Linked DNA regions of Homo sapiens. The protein of the gene in region 1 interacts with the protein of each later gene in a pairwise test. Each region holds a gene or a part of one and is shown on either strand. Other genes may lie near its edges.

Region 1 (3,102 bases):
GCATTTTTAAATTAGTGATCTTAAGTAATGAGATGCTAGGGAAATCTTGATGACCTGATATTTGATATTCGAGAATGAGAAGCAGACATAGGCCTACTTAGTGAATTCACATGTCTGAGACTCCACGTGGTGGGGACATGGACGTTAGTAGTAGTAATTAGCCTTGGATGAGAGAAGAACAGAAATTCACATATAAATGGGAAACATCCGGCATTGGTAGGTAGAGCTTGTCTAGATTGGGACTAATGAACTACTTTTCAATCTGAAGCCTTCAGGAATAGACAGGCTCCTGCTTCTGCAAATACCAAATGAAAAGCCAACCCACTGTTCTTGAATTTATAGATCCAATTTACACTTGCTCTTTTTAACCAATGGAACTAGCCGGCCCCTGCATGCCAAGTTTCTATGGCAATGTGATCTCAGTGACCTCTCTTCTCTATTGTGGAATGTAGGTGAAAAGAACGGAGGGGAGCCCGATGACGCTGAACTAGTAAGGCTCAGTAAGAGGCTGGTGGAGAACGCGGTGCTCAAGGCTGTCCAGCAGTATCTGGAGGAAACACAGAATAAAAACAAGCCGGGGGAGGGGAGCTCTGTGAAAACCGAAGCAGCTGATCAGAATGGCAATGACAATGAGAACAACAGGAAATGAGCCCGGAACGCAGGCCCCCATGTCTCTGTGCAAAGCCTCCCTGCTTCCCTCTGCTGAGTCTAGGGACTGACTTGCAGCGTGCTGTTTAAGTTAAGTTTCTCTGGTGCAATCTGTGAAGATTGCCTAATACTTTTCATGATCGATGTGTTCGCATTGCTGAAACACAACAGAAGAAAAATGGAGTGCTGGGACTGGCAGAGGAAATTAATTGATGAAAGAAGAATGGCCCAAGTTTCATTCGCCCTCAGCCACGCACAAGGGAAAGGGAACTTTGGGTTATGCCTCCTGGACGCAAATTAAAGGCCGAGAAAGAGGCCTTGCCATCAATGGAATACTGCCATTTATATTGCTTAGCAGGGCATTTGACTACTTTATCTGAGGCCAGAACTCTCACACACAGCTATCAAGTGCTAAGTTTAAAATAATCACTGTTGGAATTGTCATCTGTACAATTAGTCCATAATGTTTCATGTTTGTCCTAAGTGTGCTGTTGCTATGCAGTGTGATCTTTATTTATAGTAAATTATGTTTCATGTAAATGATATATTTTTGGTGAAATGCAACCTTTTCTATAAAATGTGGGCAACATTTTAAAGTTTTTTTAAAATCCTATTTTGATAAGTCAGTATGCCATATTTAATGAAATGTTATTATATAATTTTTTTTTCTTAGGCAAGAAACCTATTGGAATTCGAGACTTAATTAATGAAGCTTTGCATCGAGAAACGATGGGTCTGAAGTCCAAAGTGAAACAGATAAAGGAACTTTTATTAAAGCCTGAGACTCAGGCCAGAATTAGGAGGGAGCTTTTTGAAGGAAGACTTATTAACAACAGTAATTCAGCAAATGACGTTGATTTCAGCACAACTTTGACATAAGCTCTACATTGCGATTGTGACAACATAGCTTATGAAATCTTTTCAGCTTATTAAGTAGCTCTTTGGTAAACACCAAAGAAGTTTCTGATAGTGTCTGCACAACAGCAAACCAACATTTGGTGAGGAATTAGCAATTTCTTGCCAAAGAAAATTGATTCTGCCCAATTATTTTTTGAGCTACACTTGTGTTTTAGAATATCTGTTTCTGTAATATTGAGAGTTATTTTATAGAAATGATTTCTTAATTAGCTGTTGTGAGATATTTCTCGGGTCCTTGCAGAAAAAAACATACAGACTGTGAACAAATCATTCACAAACAGAATAAAACAGAGCCAACAACAGTATTTTAAGGGTCACTTGCCTCCTGTTGACACAATTGTTGCTAAATCAAAAGAAGCGTTGTCCAGGTGTGTCTACATCTAGTGTTACTTTTAATGAGAATTTGAATGTTTATTGAACAATAGTACTTGAATGAACATTTATAAATGTAATTATTGCGATCACTGGTTAAGAATGTTTTATATATCCTTATAATATTTTTCACTGATCAAAATGTTGTTCTGCTTTTTCATTTCTTAAGGAATACATGTTTGGGATTTTTATTTTTTACGTGTCCGAAGATAAGCTCCAGGTCTTATCGTATCCCTTGCCATCTGAACTTGTTTGCACTGCTTCTGTTTGAAAGAGCATCTTGAAAAACTTCCCCGGTATGATGATTGTTGGTAACAACTTTTTCTATAGTCATTGATGGAGTAGATCATGATGGAGGGGAAATCACTGGAGATCAAATATGTAAAATCATTTCAAATATAAAATCCAGTTTACTCATGGATTTTAGCTATTTTTTCACTGGGTAAATTATACTACATTTATTTACAAATGAGTTTATGCATTTTCATGGCTCTTAATAAACATATTGTTTTCCCTTGTTGCTTTTCCTCATTTCTTTTTTTCACTCTTGAGAGTAGTTGGATCTATGTTGGCGTAACGAAGTCATAAATCGGAGCTCCAATAGTTTAGTTTCAGTGTTGCTTCACCTTTATGATCCCGTCCTTCATGCTAAGAGAGCACAGTTGTCAAAGCACCTTCAACTTTACCCTTTAAAATCATATCAAATCAGTCAGCTTCACAGAGAATTAACAACAGAACCTTAAATTCAAAGAAAATCTAAATAGCGTCTTATAAACAGCTAAGAATGTGTCACTGATGTGACATCCTAGCAAAGATGAAAAGTGGAGGTCCATCCAGGTGCAGAATCCTGGGAGCTGTTTGCCATGAAACCCTTTTCAGTGGTAGAGGGCTTGACTGTTTGTTTGTAAATGGCTTCTTTAAGTAAATCCTTAAGGTAGAAAGCAAAGATAGTTTTGGCCTTGCCTTGTTTTTCAAACAAGGAAACAGACTCCAAAAGGTGGCATGCCTTATCCAGGGCCCCACTGCTATCAGGGAACTGGACTTGAACTGTCACCTGGGGCTCTATGTCAATGCCCCGGTGTTATCCTTACCACCCCATAATCTAAGTGAACAGTATTTCTGGAGAGAAGGCACTTCTCAGCGTGTATATACAGATATCCTCTG
Region 2 (4,596 bases), on another chromosome or scaffold:
ACAAAGCATAGATGACAAGACATGAAGCGGCCAATTTCAATTTGTGAGTGGTAAAAGGAGATTTTAGCTCAGTTTCTCAAAATGTGGCCCAGAAATTAAAATTGTAGCAAACATTTGTGCTGCTTCTAAATATGTTCAGATTGCTGGGCACCTCCTCTGACCCAAATCAATTCCTGTGAAAACTATTGAGTAAGGTCCTAGAAGAGAATGGACGGTCTCTAGGTCAACAATGTCCATTTCACAGGTGGCACTGGTTTTCTAACATGAAACAAGTAGGCTACACGCTAGTAAAATCTTCCAATTTTGTGAAATACGTATAATTGTACTCTCAAAGTCAAGCTCTATCATGATCAAAATTGTTGCATAAGGAACTGTGTTACATCCAGCTTTTATTAAAAGAGAATTTATTATCCATTTTTCTCCCTTCAATTATTTAAAGTGGACATCAAACCTTAAAAAATGCACTACTCATCACTGCAATCTAAGCTAATGCCAGTGTATGTCATATGTATTCAATAAAATACGAAGCATGGTGGTGCTTGTTTTTTGGTGAGGGGACCTAAAGCTTTTATGAGACACGTTGCTATCACTTAAAATTCTTCAGCGCATAACTTGCTGGTGAGCATCAAAAGGTGGGGGTTAGGGGGCACTTCATAAATATCCATTTGAGTTTATTTTCTAATTCTGCAGAAAGTTTACATATATTCCTAATTTTATTATTATTAAAATCTTGGGGATTTTAAGATAACAAATTAAAACAGTATTTATTAAAAACAATTCATTTATTCTCCCAGGCTAATTGTACTTTATACTCCAGGAGAGTAGAGAGAAAACACACACTCTAAATGTATGTATTTTATGATTCTTTCGATGCAATTAATACACTGCGTTGCAGAAGGTTTTAGGCTTCTGCCTTTAAAAAAATTATATAGGATTATGTATAATCAATAATCATTAAACTAAAGGCAAAGAAAAGAAATCTGGTAGTTCCATCAATTTTATTTCGCTCTTGCATGGATTGCCTTTGTTAACATTTTTGGCAGAAAAAAGAATCAAAGCAATTGTAGGACTCTGCACCCCACAATGCGAGCTTCAATTGAAACAATGGTCTTATCGTCTAAGACAGATCAACGTTAAAGTTGGGCAAAAAAACTTAGGAGATCTTGCAAATCTTGTTATGTGAAACCCGTCCTCCCAAAAGACCTATTGGACCACACCTTTGTCCTCCGCGCCCTTTTTTTGCAGGGTCATTAACTCGCATTATTTTTTTGTTCTCCACAGTTCTCACTTGCTTCTCTTCAGTCTTTGCTAGGTTTTCCGCGATCTCCAGTGCAGCCCCTTCCACTTGCCGCGATTCTGCCTCTCTCAGACACTGACACGTAACCTCCTCCCCATACCAAGCCCTCACCCCAAACCAAGCTGTTAAGAACAGCTACAACTGCTTCTGGGAGACGTGGGGGGCGGGGGCAAGGCGGGGGCAAGGCGGGGGCAAGGCGGGAGCACCTCGACCCTCCCGCGAACTCTCGCCGCCGGTCAGTGCCCCCTGAACTGGATGGGACCAAGGGAGTCCCTCCGCAAGGGCCTCCACTTCTGACTACGGTCCGCACGCCCCACCCCTGCTCAGCACCCTGGCAACCCGCGGGACGCTTTGCTGGTGCCAGGCTTCAATCTCTTGTTCTCATTTTCTCGTGTCCTCGCGCTCTTCCTTCTACTGTATTTTTGTCTTAAATTCTTTAATGGCGAGAGAGAGAAAAAAAAACAAAACCAGCTCAGAGCTATAGTCTTCTTCCACAAATACGTGTGTGCTTTTCAGAACCTTTCTCCGTCCCTTTCTCCTGCTAACACATGTGGGGTCTGCAGTGCAAAGGACTCTCCTTTCGTCCAGTGACCAAATGGCAGTCTCTCAGTTTGCCAATTTCATTCATCACGCCCGCACCGACTGAAGCCTACTCCTCACCAGTTCAGCTGTCTTCCAGTTAATTGTATTAACTGCTAAGCACCTCCTCCACCTTTTCGGGTTCTATTACCGCCCTCATTAAAAAAAAAAAAAAAAAAAAAAAAAAAAAGAAGGAAAGAAAAGAAAAGAAAAAAGAAAATCCAACACGAACACTCAAGATAGCGTGAATTCAAAAAAGAAAGTGTGCGTGTGCAACACAGTCTGAGTGTGTGCATCCGTATGCGTCGCCTGCCTCAGCCTGCCCGGGTCCTGAACATGTAGCTGAGAGGTGCAGGACAGTCAGAGGGCCAAAACTTCCCCTGCCAGGCTGAGGCTGGGCCCTCCCGAGCTCACCTGTCCGCGTTCAGGTAACTGGCTAAGTGCCCGCCCGGCCGCGTTCCAGGACACCTGGCCGGGACAGAGCGAATGCCAGTGAATCCCAGGGCGCCCTCTCCCGCGCGTTGGTTCTCTAGCCCTCCTTCCCTGGGAGGGGTGGGATTGGGAGTGTTCTGTTTTCATTACTGCACCCCTTCCCCTAAAGACAACGGGACTGCCCTCCTCCACAGCGCCTTACCTCAAACAGGGGACCGATCTTGTTCTTCTCCAGGTAAGCCTGGATCCGGGTTTGCGGATGAGACGCCATGGGGAACAGATGGGACCGCGAAGAGAGTGCAGGGAGAACGCGCGGCTGTGCGCCTCCGCTGGGGACAACCCTCCTTTTACCCGGACTGGGGCCGGGACAGGAGCTCCGGAGCCTCGGCTGCCCTGCGTGGCTGGCTCGGCCCCGGCCGCGGGCGTGGGTGGCAGCCCGGGGAGCCACGCGCGCGTGGGGCGCTGAGAGCCGGAAGCCTGGGCGCAGCGCCGCCAACTCAGACAACTCCGAGGCGAGGGGAGAACTCATTCATCGCGTTCTCCGCCTCGCGCCCACCCTCGCCGCTCTCCGCAGCGCCCGGCGCAGTGGGGAAATTCGAGGCAGAGGTTCCTTTCTCCTCTGGGCGGCAGCAGCAGGAATCAGGGGGCGGGAGGCGAGCTGTGTCGAGGGGCGCACGCGGGCGGACAGGGGCCGCGGGGCTCGAACTCGCCACCGGTGTGTGTGCGTGCGTGCGTGTGTGTGTGTGTCCGTGCGCGCGCGACTGTGTGTACCTCCTTTCCCCGGTGACGGAACAAACAGCCCGGGCTGCTCCCCGAGGCTGCTCGCCCTACCAGCCGCTCCCTAGCGACAGCGCCGCTTAAAAAGCCAATGGTGAAGGTGCTTCTTTCAAAGTGCACATAAATCTGGTGCTTGTTGGCTACTCCTTGGCAGCTACAAATGCAGTTCGAAAGGGGATCGTCCCCACCGCCCCTTCTGAGCCTCTCCTCAGCACCTTCTGCCCTGCCTACTCTAGCGCAGGGGTTGAGAAGGGCAGAGTTTTGAGAAGGTGCGTGGGTTTAAGGGTTTGCCGCGAAAAAGAAGTTGCCTTCCTTTTCAAAATCTGGTTTGGCCTGGAGCAAGTCGACGGGTGAACGCAGCCTGAGAACCCAGCTGAAAACTCTCAAAGTGCAGGAGCTCAAAGGCTGGAACCAGCCTTTCAGCATTTGACAGGGAGAAGAGAAATGAGCGAGCCAGCCCTCCCCTCCAAAGTTGGCCTTCCTAATCCACGCCTTGAGTCATGTCTGTATACCTATAACTGCATCTCAGACACCACACTATCCCACTTCATAATGTTTCCTCTAGATACTGCGTGAGCTGCTCAAATTTAGCCAATACCTTTCTTATTATGCAGGGATTTCCGAGTCGAAGGTTTGCAGATAGCCCAGGCTTCCTCACAGAGCTCTCTTTCTTGTGAAATACAATACTAAGGTCCCAATGACAATTTCCCTGGCTCCTAACCATGATGTGCTGCCAAAATTAGATTTATTTCTAATAAATATAAATTTTCAGAATGATGGAAACAGTTTTCCTAAAAGCTGACTGCAGCAGTATATATTTTTTTCTTTCTTTCTTCACTGTGTTCTGGATTTCTGTTACTCATAGTTTCTTTATTGGTGTTCATGTTTTCCTTCTGTATTTTAAATATGTGGAAACATGTAATAGATAAGTGTGGAATATCCCAGGAACTATTATTAATTTCATGCATTAAGACATAAGAAATCTGCTAGAATAGCTAGGAGCTTAACCATCCCTGATAACCTGAAATGGACTTGATCCAGAGTGGAAAGATGTCCACATTAATACTTTTACAATCGGACTCATATGATCTGCCTAGGGAGGGTTAAGTTAAATAGCAGTGAGGTGTCCAGGGTTGCCTCGTGCTTTCCATTTTGGTTCGAAGGTATATTTACTTATGTATTTTTTAATGTGTCCAGGAGAAATTAAATACACAGAGTGAATACCAACATTTCTATTTGCTAAAAGGTATAGCGTAGAGCCATAAGGAAGGCCATCTATGACCCAGCTAAAAAGCCTACTATTTTTGATACCACATAAGGTACCAAGATGGTACGCTTCCTGAAATCAAGAGTCTTTCTCTTTTAAGAGGCATCAGGAGGATGCTTCTTTAAATGAAATAAAGACACTTATTAAGTCTTCACCATGCTCAGACTATTGCACTTAGGGCTTTGAATAGAAGAGACAAAGCTTCAGCTGGCAAAATGTGTATGTTTTAAAGAGAGAATGAAGC

The links.
Region 2: the proteins of AKAP7 (region 1) and C8orf34 interact in a two-hybrid assay, tested with the Homo sapiens proteins (one large-scale study listed by BioGRID).

What each region holds. Positions count from the first base shown.
Region 1 is NC_000006.12:131,281,078-131,284,179, forward strand, and holds the end of AKAP7 (A-kinase anchoring protein 7), read left to right. Parts: intron 1-452; coding exon 453-649; 3' UTR 650-1,321; coding exon of another isoform or gene 1,322-1,527; 3' UTR 1,528-2,107; coding exon of another isoform or gene 2,108-2,151; 3' UTR 2,152-2,455; downstream 2,456-3,102. UniProt on the Homo sapiens protein: Probably targets cAMP-dependent protein kinase (PKA) to the cellular membrane or cytoskeletal structures.
Region 2 is NC_000008.11:68,329,254-68,333,849, reverse strand, and holds the start of C8orf34 (uncharacterized protein C8orf34), read right to left. Parts: upstream 2,896-4,596; 5' UTR 2,838-2,895; coding exon 2,511-2,837; exon of another isoform or gene 2,359-2,510; intron 1-2,358.